Regions from separate parts of the Homo sapiens genome. Here regions 1, 2, 3 and 5 are each reported to be linked to region 4. The links are microRNA targets in miRTarBase. Many come from high-throughput screens and were not tested one by one. Region 4 holds a microRNA gene; each other region holds the end of a gene's coding sequence.

Region 1 (5,103 bases), not on the chromosome of region 4:
CCCAGTTAATTTTTTTTTTTTTTTAGACGGAGTTTTGCTCTTGTTGCAACGGCATGATCTTGGCTCACCACAATCTCCACCTCCCAGGTTCAAGTGATTCTCCTGCCTCAGCCTCCGGAGTAGCTGGGATTACCGGCATGCACCACCACGCCCAGCTAATTTTGTATTTTTTAGTAGAGACGGGTTTCTCCATGTTGGTCAGGCTGGTATCGAACTCCTGACCTCAGGTGATCCAACCACCTTCGGCCTCCCAAAATGCTGGGATTACAGGCATGAGCCACCACACCCGGCTAATTTTTGTATTTTTTAGTAGAGATGGGGTTTTGCCATGTTGGCCAGGCTCGTCTTGAACTCCTGACCTCAGGTGATCTACCCACCTTGCCTCCCAAAGTGCTAGGATTATAGGCGTGAGCCACCGCACCTAGCCCATTTTTGTATTTTTTGTAGTGACAGGGTTTTGCCATGTTGCCCAGACTGGTTGCCCGTGAAGTCCTGGGCTCATGCAATCCTCCCACTTTGGCCTCCCAAACTGCTGGGATTATAGGCATAAGCCACCCCACCCAGCCTGGACACCTGATTTAAATTCTTTTGGGTGTACACCTAGGAGCAGAATTGCTGGACTGTTCGGTAATTCCGTATTTAACTTTCTTTTTTTTCCTCCAATTTGAGAGCAGGTACTGCTTAAGTGCTTAGATTAGAAAAACAATCACAGTAGACACCTTAGCTCATTCTTCTAATAAGTCTGTTGATCCGGTTCTCCCTGTTGCCAGCATGTCCACTTTCTACAAAATGGGTGGTCTTTTTCTTTACTCTACCTTGTGGAGAGGATAATTTGAAGGGCTACAGGAAGTTATTTGCTTCTTTGAAGCATTTTCCAACAGTATAGATCTCAAGAATCAGATCCTCCATGCAGGTGATGCCATATTTACCAAGAGATAAAGCAATCAAAGTGTCATCTGTCAAAGCAATTTGCTTCTTATTGATTTTTGCCATAACCATGCTGGTAGATTAGTTCATTTACTGACTTCAGCTTTGGGTACCCCCATGCCATATATGGTTCTACAATCCTCAGCATGTTCATTGAAGCCTTGTTGAGCTTCACAAAGGTTCCACTGAAGATTTAACAAAGGCGAAGAAGCTGCAACACCTTTCGGACCTTTGGGTTCACACCACTGATACCTCTGATCCTGATGACAAACGGCAATTTGGGTTTTGCAGGTACATAGAAGTTGCCAGCTTTTCTGGCCATCCTAGCCATTCGAATTTCAGTTCTGTACATCTGCCTATATTCCTTGTGATAGTGCTTCACTTTTTCATAGATAAGCTTCCTCCTTGCCTTTTGAATCATCTTTTGGGCAAATTTCTTTCTCGGGCCTTTGATCTTCAGCTCTGGGAAATTCCTTCGCTTTTTAAGGGTTTCTGGCATAGCAAGAACCTCCTTCTTTTTCTCTCTCTTTTTTTTTTTAAGACGGGGTCTTGCTCTGTCTCCCATGCTGGAGTGCAATGGTGCGATCTCGACTCAATGCAACCTCCCCCTCCTGCATTCAAGCAATTCTCCTGCCTCAGCCTCCTGAGTAGCTGGGATCACAGGGGCTGGCCACCATGCCCGGCTAATTTTGTTTTGAATTTTTAGTAGAGACGGGGTTTTGTCATGTTGGCCAGCCTGGTCTTGAACTCCTGACCTCAGGTGACCTGCCCACCTCGGCCTCCCAAAGTGTTGGGATTACAGGTGTGAGCCACTGCACCCCGGCCCTCTCCTTCTTATCTACAACACTCTACATGAGGGTTCCAGCCAGAAAAGAGGCTACTTTTTTTTTTTTGTTTTTTTTTTGAGAGGGAGTCTCGCTCTGTCGCCAGGCTGGAGTACAGTGGAGCAGTCTTGGCTCACTGCAACCTCCACCTCCCGGGTTCAAGCGATTCTCCTGCCTCAGCCTCCCGAGTAGCTAGGACTACAGGCGCCTGCCACCACGCCTAGCTAATTTTTTGTATTTTTAGTAGAGACGGGGTTTCTCCATGTTAGCCAGGATGGTCTCAATCTCCTGATCTTGTGATCTGCCCACCTTGGCCTCCCAAAGTGCTAGGATTACAGGGGTGAGCCACCACGCCTGGCCTTTTTTTTTTTAGATGGAGTCTTGTTCTGTTGCCCAGGCTGGAGTGCAGTGGCACGATCTCAGCTCACTGCAACCTCCACTTCCCGGGTTCCAGCAATTCTTCTGCCTCAGCCTCCCAAGTAGCTGGGATTGCAGGCACATGCCACCACGCCCGGCTAATTTTTGTATTTTAAGTAGAGACGGGATTTCACCATGTTGGCCAGGCTGGTCTCTAACTCCTGACCTCAGGTGATCCACCTGTCTTGACTTCCCAAAGTGCTGGGATTACAGGCATGAGCTGCCGTGACTGGCCTTTTATTTTTTTGAGACAAGGTCTCACTCTGTTGCCCAGGCTGAAGTGCAGTGGCTCGTGTCCACCCACTGCAGCCTTGACCTCCTGGGCTCAAACGATTTTCCTCTTAGCCTCCCAAGTAGCTGGGACCATAGGTGTGTGCCACCATGCCCAGTGAATTTTTGTATTTTTGGTAGAGACGAGGTTTTGTCATGTTGCCCGGCTGGCCGTGAACTTCTGAGCTCAAGTGATCTGCCAGCCTTGGCCTCCAAAGTGCTGGGATTACATGTGTGAGCCACTGTGCCCATCCATATGTTTAACTTTTTGAGGAACCATCAAACTGTTTACCACAGAGGCTGAACCATTTAACATTCCTACCAGCAATGTATAAGGATTCTAATTTCTCCACATCCTTGTAATCAACCAACTTTTAAAATTTAAATCTGGCTGGGCACGGTGGCTCAAGCCTGTAATCCCAGCACTTTTGGAGGCTGAGGTGGGTGGCTCACTTGAGGTCACGAGTTAGAGACCAGCTTGGGCAACATGACAAAACCTCGTCTCTACCAAAAATACAAAATTCATCGGGCATGGTTGCACACACCTATGGTCCCAGCTACTTGGGAGGCTGAGAGGAAAATCGTTTGAGCCCAGGAGGTCAAGGCTGCAGTAAGCCGACATCGAGCCACTGCACTTCAGCCTGGGCAACAGAGTGACACCTTGACTCAAAAAGATAAAAGGCCAGTCATGGCGGCTCATGCCTGTTATCCCAGCACTTTGGGAAGTCAAGACAGGTGGATCACCTGAGGTCAGGAGTTCGAGACCAGCATGGCCAACATGGTGAAACCCCGTCTCTACTACAAATACAAAAATTAGCCGGGTGTGGTGGCATGTGCCTGTAATCCCAGCTACTCGGGAGGCTGAGGTGGGTGGATCACTTGAGGTCAGAAGTTAGAGACCAGCCTGGGCAACATGACAAAACCTCATCTCTACCAAAAATACAAAAATTTAGTAGAGCCCCGTCTCTACTAAACAATAAAAAAAAGAAAATTAGCCAGGCATGGTGGTGTGTGCCTGCAGTCCTAGCTACTCAGGAGGCTGAGGTGGGACTATTGCTTGAACTGGGAGGTGGAGGTTGCAGTGAGCCAAGATGGTGCCACTGCACTCCAGCCTAGGTGACAGAGATGAGACCCTGTCTCAAGAAAAAAAAAAAAATCTTAAGAAATGTCATACAAATTGTCCTAAATAGAAGATAATGATGAATTAAATACAAGTCTATGACTTTTTTTTTTTTAAGTTTGTGTCTTGAGACCTAGACATTTTAAAAAACTACACTACACCATAAGGCACAGAGTGAATATTTATTTATCACAGAGGTCAAGCCGAAGCTCTAATTTTATAAATCCTGGAAAAGCTGGCCAGAAAAGTACAGAGACTTGCCCAAAGTCAAAGCTAAAGATGCTTCCAGAGGCCAGGAGAGAAGAAAATGTTTTAGTAGCACTCCATAACTGGACCCTCAAATCTACTCACTCCAAGCATCCCTTCAAGTTCCTGACCCCAAAGTAAGAATCTCAGTAAGAAAAAAATAGAGATGGTTTCCAAATAGGAGGTAGGACACCATGAGTGGCATCGAGCAATAACTGCAACAGTCTGGCTAAAGATAGCTGCCACTTATGACATCTGAGCATGAAACTAGCTAATTTTAAAATGGCCATTTAATACATGCATGTAAGAAATCTTGTATCCCCTAAATCTATACAAATAAAAAACTATAAATACAAATAAAATAAAATGGCCATTAAAAAAACAAACAAACAAACAAAAAACAACCTGTGGCTTCCAAATCCCTTATCTTTTCATTTATTCATAAAGATTTCTGGTCCCACCCATGTTCCAGGACAAGTTGTATCAATATACCCCAATCCTTTCTAACGCCCTGAGTTCTTTCTTCCACATATCTTCTAATTCGTGGTCTGGGAGGGAAAAGGGTAGTGGAGTTCTCAGGTGGATGACATCTCCAAAGGGGAGAGGACAAAGGCCTCTGGCTTGGCTTCCTGCTTCAGCACTCCAGTCAGCAGGAACTCAGGCGAGAGGAGGGGCAGCCCAACCCGTAGTGGAATGGAGCAATGAGGGAAGTCCTGAGGGCATGTGATCACAACTCTCTGAGGCTGGGGAAGACAGAGCAAAGGCAAAATCAGGTGAAAAAGAATCCTAGAAATGGGTTCAGGACCCACTAACCAGTCTTACCATCACTAAAATAATACCTCCTAATATGAAGCCAAGTGAAGCACACCGCATACTGTCTATGAAATACTCTTGCTAGGCCGGGCGCAGTGGCTCATGCCTGTAATTACACAGCACTTTGGGAGGCTGAGGCGGGTGGATCACGAGGTCAGGAGATCAAGACCACGGTGAAACCCTGTCTCTACTAAAAATACAAAAAAAAAAAAAAAAAAAAATTAGCCGGGCGCGCTGACGGGTGCCTGTCGTCCCAGCTACTCGGGAGGCTGGGGCAGGAGAATGGCGTGAAAACCCAGGAGGCGGAGCTTGCAGTGAGCCGAGATCGCGCCACTGCACTCCAGCCTGGGCTACAGAGCAAGACTCCATCTCAAAAGAAAAAAAAAAAGAAAAAAAAAAAAGAAATACTCTTGCTAGAGGCCAGGCACAGTGGCTCACGCCTATAATCCCAGCACTTTGGGAGGCCGAGGTGGGTGGATCACGAGG
Region 2 (5,103 bases), not on the chromosome of region 4:
TGAACATCAAATTAGTAGCTAGTCTTGCATGCTCTATGAAAAATAAATGTCCTCACATGAGAATAGCAGCAGGGAATGTCCTCACATGAGAATAGCCCAGCCCCGATCTTGCTGGCACTGTCACGACAGGCTCATGAATGTTGAACAGAATCGCTATCTTCTTCCAACTTACCTTTTCTTCCCCACATCTTGCTTGCTTTCTTTGCCAAGAGTGAATAGTTCGAATGACTCTAAATGTGAGCATGGTGAACCTTCACAGCTTAAGGGAGAATTTTCTGATGACTGAGACGTGTGAAGCTCTGTGCCAGGTGTCGGGAGTTTTTAGGTAGGAGACCGGAAATGATGGTCTCAGGTGCTGCAACTCTCAGGAGCCAGTGGCTAGAAAAAGGTGTTTTGATGCGAAATTAGACGTTTTTGTTCTCAATGCCTGGATCTTTGGTCATTCTAGGTCTGTGGGAGGCATCCGGGCCTCTCTGTATAATGCTGTCACAATTGAAGACGTTCAGAAGCTGGCCGCCTTCATGAAAAAATTTTTGGAGATGCATCAGCTATGAACACATCCTAACCAGGATATACTCTGTTCTTGAACAACATACAAAGTTTAAAGTAACTTGGGGATGGCTACAAAAAGTTAACACAGTATTTTTCTCAAATGAACATGTTTATTGCAGATTCTTCTTTTTTGAAAGAACAACAGCAAAACATCCACAACTCTGTAAAGCTGGTGGGACCTAATGTCACCTTAATTCTGACTTGAACTGGAAGCATTTTAAGAAATCTTGTTGCTTTTCTAACAAATTCCCGCGTATTTTGCCTTTGCTGCTACTTTTTCTAGTTAGATTTCAAACTTGCCTGTGGACTTAATAATGCAAGTTGCGATTAATTATTTCTGGAGTCATGGGAACACACAGCACAGAGGGTAGGGGGGCCCTCTAGGTGCTGAATCTACACATCTGTGGGGTCTCCTGGGTTCAGCGGCTGTTGATTCAAGGTCAACATTGACCATTGGAGGAGTGGTTTAAGAGTGCCAGGCGAAGGGCAAACTGTAGATCGATCTTTATGCTGTTATTACAGGAGAAGTGACATACTTTATATATGTTTATATTAGCAAGGTCTGTTTTTAATACCATATACTTTATATTTCTATACATTTATATTTCTAATAATACAGTTATCACTGATATATGTAGACACTTTTAGAATTTATTAAATCCTTGACCTTGTGCATTATAGCATTCCATTAGCAAGAGTTGTACCCCCTCCCCAGTCTTCGCCTTCCTCTTTTTAAGCTGTTTTATGAAAAAGACCTAGAAGTTCTTGATTCATTTTTACCATTCTTTCCATAGGTAGAAGAGAAAGTTGATTGGTTGGTTGTTTTTCAATTATGCCATTAAACTAAACATTTCTGTTAAATTACCCTATCCTTTGTTCTCTACTGTTTTCTTTGTAATGTATGACTACGAGAGTGATACTTTGCTGAAAAGTCTTTCCCCTATTGTTTATCTATTGTCAGTATTTTATGTTGAATATGTAAAGAACATTAAAGTCCTAAAACATCTAAGCCCTTGTCAATGAATTTCTCTACCTGCTTTTTAGACAAATTGTTCTTTATGATGGGAAAGCTTGAGGTCTAAAAATAGCACCTGCTAAGGGTAATTTAGTTCAACCAAAGATCTAAGACTTAATTCTTGTGCATCCATTTAAAAAAATTCAACACGGTGTGGGAGCTTTCCATTTGCTTTTGGAATGGGCATTATCAGCAAACCACCTTCCATTGCAGCTGAAGGTGTAAAGTTCTTTTTTTTTAGATGGAGGCTCGCTTTGTCGCCCAGGCTGGAGAGTGTGGTGGCGCAATCTCGACTCACTGAAACCTCCCCTCCCAGGTTCAAGCAATTCTCCTGCCTCAGCCTCCCGTGTAGCTGGGACTACAGGTGCCAGCCACCATGCATGGCTAATTTTTGTATTTTTAGTAGAGACGGGGTTTCACCATGTTGGTCAGGCTGGTCTCGAACTCCCGACCTTAGGTGATCCGCCCACCTCAGCCTCCCAAAGTGCTGGGATTACAGGCGTGAGCCACCGTGCCCAGCTCTGAAGGTGTAAAGTTCTATGAGCTTTGTCCCATTTGCCCCAGAAACATGCCACTAGGACTGTTTTGAGCTATCTTCCTGGTTTATTTGATTGCATAATGAGGACTCCACCAGTGTCTTGTCCCATCTCTGCACTGGTTAGTTGGCTCCCCTGTTCAGGTCACAGGCTCCAAGGCTTGGTTCTGTCATCTGTAACAGGAGGGTTGAAATAACTCCCCCACCACTTACCTTAAGGATGTTTAAAAGTTTAAAACAAGGGCTCGATGCAGGATGTGAATAATAACCACAATGAAGTTTTAAGTAGCAAAAGCCAGGCAGTCCATGGATTCCAACTAAGTGTTCACACATAAAAGTCATGCTCAGAGTCAGCCTCCCCTCCTTCCTCACCCTTTCATATGTGGTTGCACATCCCTGTCATCTGTATCAGACCTGTGCTTCTCAAATATCTGCTAATTTTCATTCCATTGCCATGTCAGCTCTGCTATGTCAGCCCTCAGTGGATTATTCAGCAGTCTCTTCTCTGCCCCCATATTCCCCTCCCACCACAGCCAGTTGAACTATGACTTCCCCTTGTGCTCTTTGTTGATGCATACAAAGTCCAGTACTCCCAGCCTGGCAGTCAGGACTTTGTAGCATGGGACATGGCCTCTTGCACCTCTCCTGCATTTGTGATTCTTGGAAAGTGGCATGCATTTGCCCACACTATGACATAAGCCTGGAGTTTCTGTGCCCACTCAGGAAGACCAGATGACACCCGCCAACCTCTTCCTAAACTCATTTGTGTCCTTTCCATTGGGACAATGTTCTTTTCCTTTGTTTTCACCAGGGGGATCCTTTTCTCCCATTATACCATCTCTGTTTTGTTCTTTACTATGCCAAGGTGGCTGCATATGTGCCTTCCCCATACAGCAGCATGGAAAGAACGATGGTTCTCTACCTCAAGCACCTAGTGTCCTGCCTTGCCCTTCGAGGTGCCCAGTGAAGTCTGTTCTTTTTAGACACAGGGTCTCGCTTTGTCACCCAGACTGGAGTACAGTGGCGTGATACTAGCTCACTGCAGCTTCGACCTCCTAGGCTGAAGTTATCCTCCTGCCTCAGCCTCCCCAGTAGCTAGGACTACAGGTGTATGTTACTGTGCCTGGCTAACTTTTTAAATTTTTTTGTAGAGACAGGGTCTCGCTATGTTGCCCAGACTAGTCTTGAATTCCTGGCTGCAAGTGATCCTTTTGTCTTGGCCTCCCAAAGTGCTGGGATTGCAGGCAAGAGCCACTGCGTCTGGCTGAATGAAAAATCTTAATGTAGGTCACGTTGGTCTTTCTGAGTACCATAAACTGAGCTTGGAGTAAAGGCAGAGAGGTATGATCTGTCACATAACATGGACCTTTTGTTTTTTTTGATGGAGTCTGTCTCTGTTGTGCAGGCTAGAGTACAGTGGTGTGATCTTGGCTCACTGCAACCTCTGCCTCCTAGGCTCAAGTGATTCTCCTGCCTCAGCCTCCCAAGTAGCTAGGATTACAGGCACTTGCCACCACGCCTGGCTAACTTTTATATTTCTAGTAGAGACAGGGTTTTACCATGTTGGCCAGGCTGGTCTCGAACTCCTGACCTCAAGTGATCCACCTGCCTTGTGCTCCCAAAGTGCTGTGATTACAGGCATGAGCCACCACCACATACGTGGACTTTTAATATATATATTTTTTCAAGAGCTTAGTATCCAATTTCGTTTTCTACTAAAATGGTCAAATATGATTCTGTGGTTGAATGAGGAAATTTAGTGTCTTGTGAGTTCCCCCAGAACCATCTTTATAAATCTGAAAGCTTTTGGAAAATGGTTAACTACCACATACGGACAAGGGGTAATCACTGGTGTCTGGCCAAACAGGGAGGTTCTGGAATAGATATTGCTGGAAAATATTCATCAGAGCAAAAAACTTGACCTTTGTATGTCTCGAGGGAATGAACTGATGCCAACCTGCTGATCACGCAGAGAGGGGTGAAAAGGGGAGATAAAGATACAGGCTTCTGGGTCAGCAAGCTGCAGGAGTCAGAACTGGTTGGTCTTTCCTTGAAGATTAAAATGGAAAGCAAGGTAGATTGACAGGTGTCTTTGCAGCCTTGCAGAGGCTGGGAGAGGGGCTGCCTCATATTCCTTTGGAGCCTCTAAATTGTACTTCTTCCCCAAATGGAACTTGGAACTTTTTTTTTTCTTTTAAAATTGGTTAAGGCCGGGTGCAGTGGCCCATGCCTGTAATCCCAGCACTTTGGGAGGCTGAGGTGGGCGGATCACCTGAGGTCAGGAGTTCGAGACCAGCCTGACCAACATGGTGAAACCCCGTCTCTACTAAAAATACAAAATCAGTTGGGTGTGGTGGCACATGCCTATAATCCCAGCTACTCAGGAGGCTGAGACAGGAGAATCACTTGAACTTGGGAGGCAGAGGTTGCAGTGAGTCAAGATTGTGCCATTACACTCTAGCCTGAGCAACAAGAGCAAAACTCTGTCTCAAAAAAAATAAATTAATTAAATAAAATACAATTATTTACAACATGTAATCATTATAATGCCATACAACCAAGAAAAACCAAATTTTTTTCTTGTGTTCCTTGTGTTTACCTCTATGCCCTGCTTTGTCTCCAATACTACAATTCTGTTCTTTGCATGAGAAATAAAATCATGTTCTGTCCCTAAGGCCTAAATCCCCTGCTAGAGCCCATTGATTGAAATGCCTAATGCTGTCTCATCATAACTTACCTGAAGCTGGCAGGTTTGGCATGCACTTAAGTGAATTATGTGAGGTAACAAAGAAGTAGTCCCTCCTCCCTCCTCTTAGAGCTGAAGGGGCTCTACAAGCTGAAGACACATAAAAATGGACAAAACATTAGATGTTGTCCAATTCTACCAAAGGCATTATCAGGTCTGGCCTTGCCCTCCATGATTAATGTTTGTTGTATCACGTTCTTTGGAAGGAAAATAAAACGAGGAAGAATTTTTTCACATTTGATGGGAATGAGTATA
Region 3 (5,085 bases), not on the chromosome of region 4:
AACCCTCCTGGCTCCTCCAGACCCTCCGGGGCTCTGGCCCGCAGCTCCCCTCTCCCTCCGGCGGCGGGGGTCGGCTGTGACTCACCAGAGGGCCAGCGGCCGGGGTTGGGGTGGGGGGGCCGGAATGCTCTCACTTCCTCTCCGCGCACCTGCCCCGAGGCTGGAGCGCCGCCCGGCCGGGCCTCCGGCGGATGTTTTCCTTGTTCCCAAGCGTGTAGTGCGCGCCAGCCGCCCCCTCCGGGACCTGCGCGCCAGCCACCGCGCCCCCAGGACCCAGCGGGCCTGGTCCTCACCACTCACCCCCTCCCCAGCAGGCACGCATGCGGGCTCGACCCACACCTCTGCACCGCCCCCCAACTTCTGGGAGAGGACTCCTGGCTCAGCCCAGCCTCTAGCTTTCCAGAAGCCCCTATATGCCTACCTCATCTTCGTTATAGGCGATGAACCTTCACTTCTGTCCCCGTTTCCGCACACGCACCAATCCCCACTGGCGATCCCTTCCCCTTCGGCATCACCCCCACCTTCATGCGCCCCAGCTCCCCACTCACATCCGCCCCCTATTGGGCTGGCTCTAGCTTGCAAGAGCAGAAGGTGGCCCAGGGCCCAGCCTTCCAGGATGTCCCCTGGACCCCCTCTCTGGGAAAGGCGGCAGAGCTACTGGCCACTGACAAGACCTTTGGGCCCTCGTGCTAGACAGGCCTTCGAATCCACCTGCTCCAGCCCAGAGAGCAGGCCCAGGCCGTGCCTCCCACACCGCAGCCGACCTCAGAGCACCCTGCCTCAACTGTGAGTTTTTTCTTGGCAATCCTCTGAAACGGAAAGGGTATCAGTCCTGACTAGGGCGAACGTGAGGTCCATTCTGCATCTCCATCCACCTTAGCTGTCTCCTTGGAAAAGGACAGCAAGGGAGTTTGAGGTGCACTGACACAGTCATTTCTGAACAGTGAAGAGATGACAGGTAGGGTGGTCCCCCTTGAAAAGTCAGCCAGAAGTAGCTGTATCTGATGCACTAGGTGGCAGGGAGTGAGTCTTGGAGTAAATGGGACTGAAAACGTAGAAAAACCAAATAAATGCCAAAGAGACTATCCCTATGGAGAATACCTAGAACATGGGTCTTTGAAGTGTGGAAAAATGAAAGAAATCCAATTTGACCAGGGCCTTTAGTGCCAAAGAGATGGCTAGCAGGAGAGTGGTGAGAAAGGAGAACTGGAGAGTTCACATGAGCGGAAATAGGAAGAAATGGATCCAAATCCAAGTGAGAAAAAGCAGGAGACTTAAAGTTAGCCTGGCAGGATGATGAGAAAAGGACATCTTGTCCTAGGGTAGAGGCGAGGGTGCAGATCTGGGGGAAGAAGGCTTATTGGGAACAGTTTCTCAAACTAGACATTCAGAAGTCAATACAAGGGCCAAAACCAAAATGTTCCTGGAGGTACCTGTTTTTGAAAGAGGTGGGAAAGGTGACATGGATTAGGGGTCTCCATCCCCCAGGCCACAGGCCAGTACCAGTCTGTGGCCTGTTAGGAAGCGGGAGCACAAAGCAGGAGGTGGGCGGCAGGCGAGTGAGCATTACCGCCTGAGCTCCTCCTCCTGGCAGATCAGCAGAGGCATTAGATTCTCACAGGAGTGCAAACCCCACTGTGAACTCCGCATGCAAGGGATCTAGATTGCACACTCCTTATGAGAATCTAATGCCTGATGATCTGAGATGAAACAGTTTCATCCCAAAATCATCTCCCCGCTGCTATCCCCCTCCATCCACTGGTGGAAAAATTGTTTTCCACAAAACCGGTCCCTGGTACCAAAAAGGTTGGGGACTGCTGACAAGGAGTATGAGTGTGAAAGGTGCAGAGGTCTATGCCAGGAGACAGCCATCCCCAATAGAAGCCCTCAGCTATGCACAAACTGCTTAATGTCATTCAAAGAAAATAATGTCGCCCATTTTGCCTCAGAGCTTTAGCCCCAATCACAGCAACTGCTATTTCCTGACGCTTACGCACCAGAGATGGTGATAAGAGCACTGCACGCATTATCTCAGTAATCCTCATAACAGCCCAATGAGTTGGCATTACTATCCCCAATTTATAGATGAGGAAACAGGCTCAGAGAGGTGAAGTAATCTGACCAGGTTACATAGCTAAGTGGAGTCAGGATCTGAATCCAAGAAGACTGTCTCTACAGCCCATGCTCTCAATAATCCATCCTGGGCTCCTCCAGAACCTGTGGGAAACTCAGAGGATGCCAAATGATAAATTCCTAAAAACCTCACTCCATTATATATGGGAGGAAAGAGAGGACACCTCTGTGAACCTGGAGTGATTCATCCCATCAGGGCACTTAGAGATGCTCCTCTTTGAAAGGGGAAAGAACCATCCCCAGATGTGGGGTGATCCCACATCTGCTGTATGTTTGAAGGTGATAAGCAATGGACAGTTCACCTCTGGAATGCCTGAGGAAAAGAGACCCTCCCCACCATCTCTGAGGGGCAGCCCTATTTCTTGGATACATTAGGGAAACCCTGCCCTAGGATCTGAGGGAAACACAGTCTCCACTCCAGGTGCCTGCTCACTCTCCTGGAGCTTCTGGCCGTCGCACCCTATTGCAGCTCCTGGGTTTGGCTGGGGCACAGGATTAACCATCCCCAGGAAATGCCTCCCTCCGGTCCAGGCAGGGATCCCAGCATACACACCCCTGGTGGTGGCAGTGGGGGAGAAAGGGGGAAGGTGGAATGCTTCCTTCTCTCCAGGTCAGGGAAGAGATCTGGGGACCACCTGGGGGCCCTCGCCCCTCCTGCCTCCTTGCTGGGGAAGTGCCCAGTCCAGTGCCCCCTCCATGGCCACCTCCCTCCCTCTAGCTGTGCCGGGGCATGAATCAGCTCTCACAGCTTGTTAAAGCTAGACCTCTTGTTTTCATGCCCTCACCTCAGGAAACAGAGTTACAACTTTTCCAGCTCTACTCAGCAGGGGGCCAGGGTCCTCACTTTATAAACATCCCCAGCCTGTGAGAGCAGAGGGCAGGGAGATAGTGTGAGACAGGAGCCCAGGGGAGAAAGACAGAAACTAAGACTCAAGGAGCAACGCAAAGCAAAGTCAAGGAGTCAAGACCAGAGTAGCTGAGCAGAGGCCAAGAAGGGTCTGAGAGGGCTGTGCAGCAGCAATGGCCCTAAGGATGCTCTGGGCTGGACAGGCCAAGGGGATCCTAGGAGGCTGGGGGATCATCTGCTTGGTGATGTCTCTACTCCTCCAGCACCCAGGAGTCTACAGCAAGTGCTACTTCCAAGCTCAAGGTAAAGTGGGGTGAAGCGTTAGGAATGGAGGAGCAGCAGAGAGGGCACAGGGAGGATGGGGCCTTACAGATGATCCCGTGTCAAAATACCCAGGCTTCCTCCAGCTGTGAAACAGGAAAGACAAACTAAATACGGGGATAGTGCGTACTTACTGTCTCCACCCCAGACCAGAAGAGCCTCTGCCTCTCATCAGCACTCCTACACCTACTAACATTTCCCGTTCTTCCCTAGCCCCCTGTCACTATGAGGGGAAATATTTTACCCTGGGTGAGTCTTGGCTCCGCAAGGACTGTTTCCATTGCACCTGTCTGCATCCTGTTGGCGTGGGCTGCTGTGACACGTGAGTGACCAAAGATGGCCAGAGAGAATGACTCTGATATGAGTGACTGAGGGATGACCAGGGAGTGACTAGATTGCTGTGATGTAAGAATGAACAGAAGAGCAATACAAGATGGGCCAAACCTGAAGGGACCAACACTAGTGTGAAAGATAAGGCTTCAGGCTATAAATCAGGGGAGGTTGGGGTGGACCTGGAGAGAAAATACTCCTGTTATAAAACAAAAAGGCCCACATATGGTAGGTGACAGCTTAGTTAGGAGGACCAAGGGGCCACTGAAAGGGGCTCTGTGGGGGGAAAACTGTGAGAGAGGGAACATGTGGGCAGGGATAAAGGCAGCCTTTCACTGTGCTGACTCCTTCCCCTATCCTTGGTTCCCCAGGTCCCAGCATCCCATCGACTTCCCGGCTGGGTGTGAGGTACGTCAGGAGGCAGGAACCTGCCAGTTCTCCTTGGTGCAAAAATCTGACCCTCGGCTGCCCTGCAAAGGGGGAGGGCCTGACCCAGAATGGGGCTCAGCCAACACCCCTGTTCCTGGGGCTCCTGCTCCCCACTCCAGCTAAACTCAACTGATCATCCATCTGCTGACTGCTCACTGCTGCTGCCACTTCCAGGGAAACCACTAGCAGCTGCCAATGTATTCTGAACAAATAAATTAATGCTATAGCTGAAAGCCCGACTCTCACTGTCCACGACATTGGACCCCAGGTGGAAAAAGTGGGTCCCATTAGAGTCCAGGTGCTGAGTTCTCAGTATCCGGAAGGAACTAGCACCAGGGTGGGCCAGTTTCAGATGGTTATGGTGCTGGTGCTGGGGCCTGGGGCAGCATATGAGGCCAGGGTGGGGCTAGTAGGCAGCACCTTGATGGGCAGGTCCCAGCTGAAGGTGTCTACAGGTACTTGCTCAGGTCCTGTCCAGGTGGTAGGTTCGGGCTGTTCCACAGGGGGTAGGAGTACCAATCCTGGTTCTCGGGACGTTACAAATTCAAAATGCAATCTCCACTTCAAGGACACTATGGAAGAAAAAGATTAAGGTAGAAGCATCAGAAGCTAGCAGGAGTAAAAGCCAATGACAGGATATAGTTAGTGAATGAGAAGAAAACAATCTGTGTTCAGGAAGACAGGGAAAAGTCACAGGGCAGGGAGCTGTGATTAAGGGTTTTTCTGAAGCAATGGGTACTACCACAGATGTGAGCTGAAGATAGCAGTATTAAGTACCTAATAACCTAAGAGTGAGGCAGTCAAGTCTAGGTAGCATGAAGTAATCAAAAATCAGTGTATCACAGGGTCCTAGTAGGTAGGTGTGGGGAAGGAGTTCTATCAAGCTGTTAGGAGTTTAGGGGTCAGTGCATCTAAGAAACAGGAAGAGGTTGAAGGTCTGAGAAACTGTTCCGGGTCAGAGGCTAGACGTGGGTATGTCTGGGAGTGTGTATAAGGAATCAGGATCCATTACACCCTCCCTTAGC
Region 4 (5,103 bases):
CTCCAGCCTGGGAACAGAGTCAGACTCTGTCTCAAAAAAAAAAAAAGATCAATGGGCTAAAACTACTAAACTCTTAGAAGAAAAATTAGAGGTAAATCTTTATGCCTTTGGATTTTACAGTGGTTTTTTGGGTGTAATAGCAAACGTAAGAACAACAAAAGAAAAAATAGATAAATTGATGTCATCAAAATTAAAAACTTTGTGCATCAAAGGACATTATCATGAAAGTAAAAGGCAACCTATAGAATCGGGGGAGAAATATTTGAAAATCATAGTATTTAGTATTCAAAATATATAAAGAATTCTTACAACTAAAACATAAAGACAACACAATTTTTAAAAATGGGCAAAGGACTTGAGTAGATATTTCTCCAAAAAAGTATATGGATAGCCAAAAAGTACATAAGAAGATGTCCAACCTCATTAGTCATTAGAGAAATGTAAATGAAAACTTGATGAGATACCATTTTCACACCCACAAGGATGGATATAATAATATTTTTAAAAAGTACTAGCAAGGATGTGAAGAAATTGGAACTCTCATATTTCTGGAAGAATGTAAAATGGTTCAGCCCCTATAGAAAAGTTTGATGGTTCCTCAAAAAGTTAAACACAGAATTACCATATAACTCAGCAAATTCCACCCCTAGGTATATAACCAGAAGGCTGAAAACAGGTACTCAAATAAATACTTGTACACAAATGTCTATAAGAGCACTCTTCACAATAGTTAGACATGGAAACAACCCAAATTTCCTTCAATGAATAAATAAAAAAATTGTGGTATATACACATAATGGAAAACTATTCAGTAATACAAAAAGAAATGAAGATATATGCCACACTGTGGATGAACCTCAAAATGATTATGTAAGTGAAAGAAGCCAGACACAAAAGATCATAGGTTGTATAATTCCAGTTATGTGAAATATACAGAATAGTAAATCTGTAAAAACAGAAAGTCTATTGCTAGTTGCCAGGAACTGTGGGGAGGAGGGAATGGGAAGTTAACTGCTTAATGGACATGAGGTTTTATTCTGGAGTGACAAAAATGTTTTGAAAGTAATAAAGGTGGCAGTTTTATAACATTGTAAATGTACTAAATGCTACCAATTTGTTCACTTTAAAATGGTTCATTTTATGTCATATGAATTTTACCTCAATCTTTAAAAATATGCATTTGCACCCATTTATAGTTATAAGAACTTTGATAAGTTGCTCCCCTCAGGTCTCAGTGTCTTCATTCAAAAGTGAGCCCTTTTGCTTGGACAGTGAAAATGGAGAAGTAAGAATCTTTAAAATTTCCTCCACGAAAGCAACAAGAACACTGGCAAAAATGGTCAGAATCAAGTTTTCCAGAATTCTGGGAATTAAAAAAAAAAAAATCAAACCATGCAGCAATCCAAGGAACATCTATTGAAGAAAAATTGCTGCTTCTCAGTAAGAATAGTGAGTTTCATGGCATTTTATCTTGCTCTGGACCCATCTGCAGCATTCCCAGTTCCATGGTAGTAATGAAAAACAACCACCCACAATCATAGTGAAAACCAGCAGCCTGGCAGCATCTGGAGGGAGAAGACTGGTGTTGGAATGCCTTCAATGCACCATTACCAGAGAATTGTCATTATTTGACCTGTCTGGGTGGTTCTCTGAAAGACCCATTTGCAAAGCTTTTATTTGACCATACTCAAACCTCTCTTGGTGCAAACAGCCTTTTCCCTGGGAAAATTTGTTGAAAACAATCAGAGGCAACTGTTTAACATCATGGCTGCTGCACAGTGTGTAACAGTTGTGAAAAACAATAGGTTAACCAAGAGCTTAAAAGTAAGTTAGGCAATGAGATGTCCATAGGAGGTTTTGAAAAGCTCTAACATGTTACTGGAAATACAGAAGGCCTTGCAGCCAGTGTAAGGCTTTCTGCATGCTCAGAAAAGACCAGAGAAAGTCCCAACATCTCATCTCTAACTAATCTTGTGGGTCTGTGCAAACATCCAGTGACCACTAAAGTGTAGCTTTAAACTGCCTGGTTGAGTAGAGACATGCCTCAGTGCACACACAAAGTTTTTGTTGTCAAAGACTGGGAGATTTATTGGTTCCAGCCATTTAAGGAAATTTTTTTCCAATCATTAGCTGATAATAAGATAATGAGTAGGACCAGATCAATGGCCATACATGACAAAAAATGCATACTTTACAGGATTATTTCAGAAGTCACTAAACTAACACATGGCAACAACAACAAATAACAGCAACAAACCTTGGATAGAGGTGAGAATCTGATTTCCAGAGTTGCCACATTATATTATTCAAAATATTCAATTTTCAACAAAATAGTCATGGCACGTACAAAGGAAAAGAAAGTATGGCTCGCATATAGGATAAAAGTCAGTCAATGGAATCTGTCACTGAGGAAGCCCAGATGTTGGACTTACAAGACATTTTAAATCAGCTATTTTACTTATGTTTAAAGAACTGGGCCGGGTGTGGTGGCTCACTCCTGTAATCCTAACACTTTGGGAGGCTGAGGCAGGTGGATCACTTGTGGTCAGGAGTTCAAGACCAGCCTGACCAACATGGTGAAATCCTGTCTTTACTAAAACTACAAAAATTAGTGGGGCTTGATGGCACAAGCCTGTAATCCCAGCTACTTGGGAGGCTGAGATAGGATAGTTGCTTGAATCCAGGAGGCAGAGGTTGCAGTGAGCCGAGATCATGCCACTGCACTCCAGCCTGGGTAACAGAGTAAGACTCCATCTCAAAAAAAAAAAAAAAAAAAAAAAAGAACTGAAGGAAACTGTATGTAAAGAACAAAGAACTAAAGGCAAGTATGAGAATGATGTCTCACCAAATAGCGAATATCAATAAAGAGACAGAAAAAATTTTCCAAGAACCTGAATAAAAATTCTAAAGTTGAAAATTACAATGACCTAGAATGAAAAATTCCCTGGAGGGGCTCATATAAGATTTGAGCAGACAGAAGAAAGAGTCAAATGTGCTTGAAGATAGACCAATGAATAGTAACCAGTTTGAGGAAAAGAAAGAAAAATAATTATGAAGAAAAAAGAACAAAATGGGTTAAAATGCCTCACATAACCAATAAGATAAAACTCAATTCAAATTGGGAAAAAAATGAATATAGCCACAGAGAAGTGTGGGACACTGTCAAGGGCATCAACATATACATAAAGGGAATCCCTCAAGGAGAGGAGAATACTTGGAAAAATAATGGCTGAAATTCCCCAAGTTTGATGAAAAACTTCATCCAGTAAGTTCAAAAAACTTACAATAGGATGCATTCTAATAGAGCCACACATAGACAAATCATTATAAAATTGCCAAAAGACAAAGGCAAAGAGAGAATCCAAAAAGCAGAAAGGGAGAAGTGAATATCACATGTAAATGATCCTCATACTGCTTCTAGCCTCCATGAATTCTGATGAATTCATGTGATTCCTCCATCAGGAGTCATGGAAGCTGGAAGCAGTGGGATGACAGTCAAAATGCTGAAAGAAAATGAGAGGTGGCCAGGCACGGTGGCTCACACCTATAATCCCAGCACTTTGGGAGGTGGAGGAGGGTGGACTGCTTGAGCTCAGGAGTTCAAGACCAGCCTGGGCAACATGGTGAAAACCTGTCTCTACCAAAAATACAAAAACAAATTTAGCTGAACATGGTGGGGTGTGCCTGTAGTCCTAGCTACTCAGAAGGCTGAGGTGGGAGGATCACTTGAGCCCAGGAGGTCGAGGCTGCAGTGAGCCACAATCATGCCACTGCACTCCAACCTGGGTGACAGAGTGAGACCTGGTCTCATAAATAAATGAATAAATAAAAGAAAAATAAAAAAAGAAAATGACAGTCAACCAAGAATTCTATGCCCACCAAACTATTCTTCAGAAAGAAAGGTGAAATTAAGATATGTCTAGATAAAGAAGAATTGAGGCAATTTGTTGCTAGCAGACCTACAAAATACTAAATAGTCCTTCAGGCTAAAATGAAAGGATCATAAGCAGAAACTTGAATTCATGTGAAGAAATAAAGAGCCAGTTAAAGTAACTATATAGGAAAATAATAGACAGTATAAACATATTTTTGTTTGTAAATCTTTCTCTCCTAAGAGGCAACTGCATAAAACAATTATAAATCTGTGTGAATGGGTGTACAATGAATAAAGCTGTAATTTGTATAACAAAAACAGTTCAAAGAAGGATGGGGAGAATGGAGCTATTTAAGAACAGCATTTTTTGGCTGGGTGTAGTGGCTCATGCCTGTAATCCCAGCACTTTGGGAGGCCGAGGCAGGCTGATCACCTGAGGTTAGGAGTTTGAGACCAGCCTGGCCAACATGGTGAAACCCCATCTCTACAAAAATACAAAAATTAGCTAGGTGTGTTGGTGTGCGCCTGTAATCCCAGCTACTCGGGAAGCTGAGGCAGGAGAATCACTTGAACCCAGGAGGCAGAGGTTGCAGTGAGCCGAGACCACAGTATTGCACTCCAGCATGCGCAACAAAAGTGAAACTACATCTCAAAAAATAAAAAAAAAGGAGCATTTATTTATTTATTTATTTATTTGAGACGGAGTCTCACTTTGTCACCCAGGCTGGAGTGCAGTGGCGCGATCTTGGCTCACTGCAAGCTCCACCTCTCAGGTTCATGCCATTCTCCTGCCTGAGCCTCCTGAGTAGCTGGGACTACAGGCACCCGCCACCACGTCTGGCTAATTTTTTGTATTTTTAGTAGAGATGGGGTTTCACCATGTTAGCCAGGATGGTCTCTATCTCCTGACCTCCTGATCTGCCCGTCTCAAAAGAACTTTGCTCTGTTGCCCAGGCTAGAGTGCAGTGGCACGATCATGGCTCACTGCAGCCTTGAACTCCTGGGCTCAAGCAATCATCCTGACTTCCAAGTAGCTAGGACTACAGGCAGGTGCCACCATGCCTGGCTAATTTTTTAATTTTTTTTTGTAGAGTCAGGGTCTCGCTATGTTGCTCATGTCTCAAATCCCTAGGCTCAAGCAATCCTTCTGCCTCAGCTTCCCAAAGTGTTGGGATTACAGGCTTGAGCCACCCCTCCAGGCAAAAATATTTTTTAAAATTTTTGTAATT
Region 5 (5,103 bases), not on the chromosome of region 4:
TGTAATCCTACCACTTTGGGAGGCTGAGGCGGGCAGATCACCTGAGGTCAGGAGTTTGAGACCAGCCTGGCCAACGTGGTGAAACCTCGTCTCTACTAAAAATACAAAAATTAGCCAGGCATGGTGGCGGGCGCCTGTAATCCCAGCTACTTGGGAGGCCGAGGTGGGAGAATCGCTTGAACCGGGGAGGCAGAGATTGCAGTGAGCCAAGGTCGTGCCATTGTACTCCAGCCTGGACAACAAGAGTGAAACTCCACCTTAAAAAAAAAAAAAAAAGAATTAGTGCATAGGATGGGAGCAGGAGAGGGAGGTAACCAGGGACATGGAGAGAGACAAAAGCTTATCGGGTGTTGGGGGCCCACCTTGGGTTAGAGACCATATATTTTTAGCAGCCCCAGATTCATACCTAGTGTCTGGTACCTAGAATGAGTTCAAAAAAGTTTGTTGGCCAGGCGCGGTGGCTGATGCCTGTAATCCCAGCACTTTGGGAGGCTGAGGCAGGTGGATCACATGAGGCCAGGAGTTCGAGACCAGCCTGGCCAACGTGGTGAAACCCCATCTTTACTAAAAAATACAAAAATTAGCCAGGTGGGGTGGCGGGCACCTGTAATCCCAGCTACTCAGGAGGCTGAGGCAGGAGAATCGCTTGAACCCGGGAGGCGGAGGTTGTGGTGAGTCGAGATTGGGCCACTGCATTGTAGCGTGGGTGACACAGCGAGAACTCTGTCTCAAAAACAAAATGTGTTGAATGAACAAGCAAGTGGTTGTATGAGCACCAACCCCTGTGTTCAGAGCAGAGAAGGGAGATAGTTGGATGGATCCAGGCTGTGGATTGAGAACAGGATTGTGAATGGAGGGTGGAGTGTGCTGATGAGATAGGGGTTGATATGGTGACCTTGAAGTATAGGCTGGAAAGAAAAGGAAGTGTCAAGTAGTGAGAAAACAGAAGGGCCAAAAGCTTTGTGACAAAACACCCAATCAGCTGGTTTTTTTGTTTGTTTGTTTGTTTTTGAGACGGAGTCTCGCTCTGTCACCCAGCCTGGAGTGCAGTGGCACCATCTCGGCTCACTGCAAGCTCCACCTCCCGGGTTCACACCATTCTCTTGCTCAGCCTCCCGAGTAGCTGGGACTACAGGCACCCGCCACCCCGCCTGGCTAATTTTTTGTATTTTTAGTAGAGACGGGGTTTCACCGTGTTAGCAGGATGGTCTCGATCTCCTGACTTTGTGATCCGCCTGCCTCGGCCTCCCAAAGTGCTGGGATTACAGGCATGAGCCACCGCGCCTGGCCATAAGCTGTTTTTTTTTTTTTTTTTTTTTTTTTTGTGTGGCTATTATAACTGACTACATGAAAATAAATATAAAAAATTTTCCTAGTGTATGAACCTAAAAAGCAAAAAGAATTTTTTTTTTTTTCTGAGATGGAGTTTTGTTCTTGTTGCCCAGGCTGGAGTGCAGTGGCACAATCTCAGCTCACTGCAACCTCCACCTCCAGGGTTCAAGTGATTCTCCTGCCTCAGCCTCCCGAGTAGCTGGGATTACTGGCGCCCGCCACCATGCTCAGCTAATTTTTTGTATTTTTAGTAGAGACGGGGTGTCACTATGTTGGCCAGGCTGTTCTCGAACTCCTGACCTCAGGCGATCCACCCGCCTCGGCTTCCCAAAGTGCTGGGATTACAAATCACAGGTGTGAGCCACTGCGCCCGGCCTTAAGAAAGACAATTTAAAAAAATTTATCTGTTATTGAAAATACAGGAAGCCAAATGTTTGGAAGTAGACAGAGGGGATTGTTGTACAACATTGTGAGTATACTAAATGCCATTGAATTAGACTATTTATTTATTTATTGAGAGAGAGTTTTGCTCTTGTCGCCCAGGCTGGAGTGCAATGGCGAGACCTTGGCTCTATAAAAATACAAAAATTAGCCAGGCATGGTGGCACGTGCCTGTAATCCCAGCTACTCGGGAGGCTGAGGCAGGAGAACGGCTTGAACCCGGGAGGCGGAGGTTGCAGTGAGCTGAGATTGCGCCATTCCACTCCAGCCTGGGTGACAAAGTGAGACTCCATCTCAAAAAAAGATAATAATAAATAAGTTAATTAAATAAATAAAAAGGGCAGTTTCTCAAAGTGTGTACTAATTAAAAATCCGGATTTTTGGATTCTTCTTGGGACCTTGTGACTCAGAATCGGGAAAGGTGGAGCCCAACTCTGGATTTTTACCATGGCACCCCGAGGGTTCTGATTCTCCTGAAAAAAATTTGAGATCGGCCAGGCGCGGTGGCTCACGCCTGTAATCCCAGCACTTTGGGGGGCCAAGGTGGGCGGATCAGGAGGTCAGGAGTTCGAGACCAGCCTGGCCAGTATGGCGAAACCTTGTCTTTACTAAAAATACAAAAATTAGCCAGGCGTGGTGGCGTGTGCCTGTAGTCCCAGTTACTCGGGAAGCTGAGGCAGAAGAATTGCTTGAACCTGGGAGGCAGAGGTTGCAGTGAGCCAAGATAGCACCATTGCATTCCAGCCTGGGTGAGAAAGCAAGACTCCATCTCAAAAAAAAAAAAAAAAAAATTGAGATACCTGGGCTTAGAGGTCAAGGAGCAGGTGCACGGGAGTCGGAGGGATGCTGGAGATGGTATTAGGCGGGATGGTTCTTCCGTTCTTCCGCATGAGAAAGTCCAGGTTCTGCAGGGGAGGCTGCCGCCGTGGCGGGGTAAGCAAGGTCACGGGCCTTTTGGCAGTACTTAAAGCTTGTGGGTAAATGGCGATTTAACTAGAAGTCACGAGTCATAACATAGACTAAAGGCCTGTGCGAGCTGTCCCCATCTGGCTCAGCAGCCAGAAGGAACTACTTTGCCTCTGGCTGTCTCTGTCCCAGTCTCTCTGGCCTCTTTAGGTCCCAGATGTGTTGTTTCCTCCTGCCTTCACACGACACTGCCATTGCCCAGAATGCTCATCCCTGGACGGTCCCCGAACTCCCCTCATCTTTCACTTCTCTGCTTAAAGGTCACTTTCTCAGGGAAATCTTCCCCAAACCCAACCTAGCTCAGAACTCCCTGTCACGCGTTCTCCTGGCTCCAGTACTTCTCCTCTGAAGCAAAGATATTGTAGTTAAATAACTAGGGAGGCCTGGCGCGGTGGCTCACACCTGTAATCCCAGCACTTTGGGAGGCCGAGGCGGGTGGACCACTTGAGGTGAGGAGTTTGAGAACAGCCTGACCAACATGGCGAAACCCCATCTCCACTAAAAATACAAAAATTAGCCGGGAGTTGTGGCGGGCGCCTGTAATCCCAGCTACTCCGGAGGCTGAGGCAGGAGAATCACTTGTACCTGGGAGGCGGAGGTTACAGTGAGCCGAGATGGCACCATTGCACTCCAGCCTGGACGACAGAGCAAGACTCTGTCTCAAAAGAAAAAAAAAAAAAAGGGAATGAATTAATGTGTTTTTGTTGTTGTTGTTGTTGTTGTACTGCTATACTATGCCTGGTACTTTGTAGGGACTCAAATCCAGATTGTTTGTGGAATGCATGAAGGAGCTTTAGGAGAAAGATTGGGCTTCAGGAGTGGAAGCAGATGATGGAGGTGAGAAATGTTCGTGGAGTGATGCTACCTCCCTCCAGCCCAGCCTGGGGCTTCGGTCAAGCCTCAGGGAGTCCCTGATGAATATCCCATGAACAGCACTAAGATGTGGTCCCTAGGACAGGGGCCCACGGCAGCATGACGTTCTTGCTGCCCAAGCCTCAGCTTCTGTGTTAGAATGTAGGTACCAGACTCCAGAGACGTCACGTGGCTTGTCTGGTGAGGCCTGCGGTTGTGGCACCGCTGAGCCACAGGAGCAGATGGCTCGAGCAGCCATAAGGAGCAGTGGAAATGAACGCGACTCGGTCACAACAGGTCACAGGTGGTCATGTGCGTCGGCCGCAACAGGGAAGGGCCTGCCCTGGCTAGCTCCCGTGAGCATCTGTGTGCAGGCGAGTTAGTTTAGTTACTGTGACCTCTAGAAATGACTAAGTTCACTTTGTGGCCTTATCAAGCCTCACCCTTGAGTTTGGACTAAGTCAAGTTTTGATGTTTACCCTGGAACACAGCCACAGCACAGTCATCCAATAAACATTTGCTGATAGCCTCCGTGTCAGGTGGCTTTTGGGTGCAGAAGAGAGACTGGGTCCTCCCCCACAAGCTAACAGAATCATGGATAAGCACACCATACACTCTCTAAACACTACAGAGAAAACACACACTCATGCTTAGTAAAAGATTTATTTTCTTCTTTATGCTCAGAAACAAAGAAACGGCCTTGTCCCCAAAGGGTCTCCTCTTGAAGGAATGGGGGCAGAGAGAGTGATAATGGGAGGTGTTGGTGTGAGGTTGAGAGTAGGAGTTTTGTCTCCCCCTTTCCCTCCTGTCACTCCTCTTTTCACTGTCCCCTTCCAGAAAATTTAGGTATGAACACAGCTTGCCACCCACGGCGGGGCTGGAGAAGCAGAGCTGCAGTCAAAAAATTAATGCCCACATTCAGCAAGAGAGGGTCCAGTGTGTATCTTGGGGGGATGGGGGAGAGAGTGTGAAGGGATTGGTTGAAGAAGCTTCCAGGTGAGGGGAAGGGAAGAGGGGCTGGGACAATCCCCCATTGACAGTGGGGATCTTAATCCTGCCCTCACCTCTCCCAACCCCATCCCCTCCCTTCTTCCCACCCCGCTTCCTAGCAGAGTTGATCATCATAGTCGTCATCCTTCATCCCCTTCAGCCGAAGCCGGGCAAAGTCCTCAAACACAATGTCATCATCTGTGGCATAGCTTGGTGGTGGGAAAGAGGGTTGTGAGGTGAGGGCTTCTGACTCTTGTCCCAGCCTCCCACTCCCTGCCCTCCCCGAAGCTAGGCCTCTGGGACAGAGGCGTTCGAACAGCAGTGGGACCAGAGGTATTTACAGGAAGGGACAAAGAAAAGGCAGCAAGAGGCAGCCTCACAAGGCTAAGGCATCTTGATTTGATGCTACAATCCGCTTCTCCCCACCAAAAGCAAGGAAGAGGTATGAGGGCAGATTTGAATGTTATAGGAATCTTTGTCCCAAGAGGGTCAAGTAGGGGAATGAGTTTCTTACTTGGTATC

The links. The annotated mature microRNA hsa-miR-2115-5p reads AGCUUCCAUGACUCCUGAUGGA and lies in region 4 at 3,455-3,476, opposite strand. An mRNA with a match to its seed (bases 2 to 7 or 8) in the 3' UTR can be bound and repressed. Matches are read on the target gene's strand: a 7mer-m8 pairs with bases 2 to 8, a 7mer-A1 pairs with bases 2 to 7 and ends in A, and an 8mer does both.
Region 1: the mRNA of MDC1 is a reported target of hsa-miR-2115-5p. Seed matches in the 3' UTR shown: 7mer-m8 at 4,215-4,221 and 8mer at 3,839-3,846.
Region 2: the mRNA of PSAT1 is a reported target of hsa-miR-2115-5p. Seed matches in the 3' UTR shown: 8mer at 760-767.
Region 3: miRTarBase lists RGP1 as a target of hsa-miR-2115-5p. Seed matches in the 3' UTR shown: 7mer-A1 at 2,727-2,733.
Region 5: the mRNA of ARRB2 is a reported target of hsa-miR-2115-5p. Seed matches in the 3' UTR shown: 7mer-m8 at 4,580-4,586.

The regions. Positions count from the first base shown.
Region 1 is chr6:30,696,086-30,701,188 of GRCh38, forward strand. It overlaps MDC1 (mediator of DNA damage checkpoint 1), which reads right to left. Exons shown (of 15, transcript NM_014641.3): 15 at 3,722-4,547. The coding sequence ends at 4,380. It also overlaps the pseudogene RPL7P4. Among named protein-coding and RNA genes, the nearest start is that of MDC1-AS1, 4.4 kb to the right of the region's middle. RefSeq lists an enhancer at 4,435-4,936.
Region 2 is chr9:78,328,533-78,333,635 of GRCh38, forward strand. PSAT1 (phosphoserine aminotransferase 1) reads left to right here. Exons shown (of 9, transcript NM_058179.4): 9 at 449-1,561. The coding sequence ends at 554. Among named protein-coding and RNA genes, the nearest start is that of PSAT1, 34 kb to the left of the region's middle.
Region 3 is chr9:35,752,198-35,757,282 of GRCh38, reverse strand. RGP1 (RGP1 partner of RAB6A GEF complex) reads right to left here. Exons shown (of 9, transcript NM_001080496.3): 9 at 1-4,632. The coding sequence ends at 4,409. It overlaps MSMP (microseminoprotein, prostate associated), which reads left to right and starts at 3,007. Exons shown (of 3, transcript NM_001044264.3): 1 at 3,007-3,283; 2 at 3,515-3,623; 3 at 4,003-4,293. The coding sequence starts at 3,154. The coding sequence ends at 4,183. RefSeq lists a silencer at 1-286 and an enhancer at 3,194-4,393.
Region 4 is chr3:48,312,964-48,318,066 of GRCh38, forward strand. MIR2115 (microRNA 2115) reads right to left here and starts at 3,496; the gene lies at 3,397-3,496. All of the region lies in intron 6 of SPINK8 (serine peptidase inhibitor Kazal type 8 (putative)), which reads right to left.
Region 5 is chr17:4,720,633-4,725,735 of GRCh38, reverse strand. ARRB2 (arrestin beta 2) reads right to left here. Exons shown (of 15, transcript NM_004313.4): 14 at 5,096-5,103; 15 at 4,239-4,790. The coding sequence ends at 4,697. Among named protein-coding and RNA genes, the nearest start is that of MED11, 8.2 kb to the left of the region's middle. RefSeq lists a silencer at 1-15.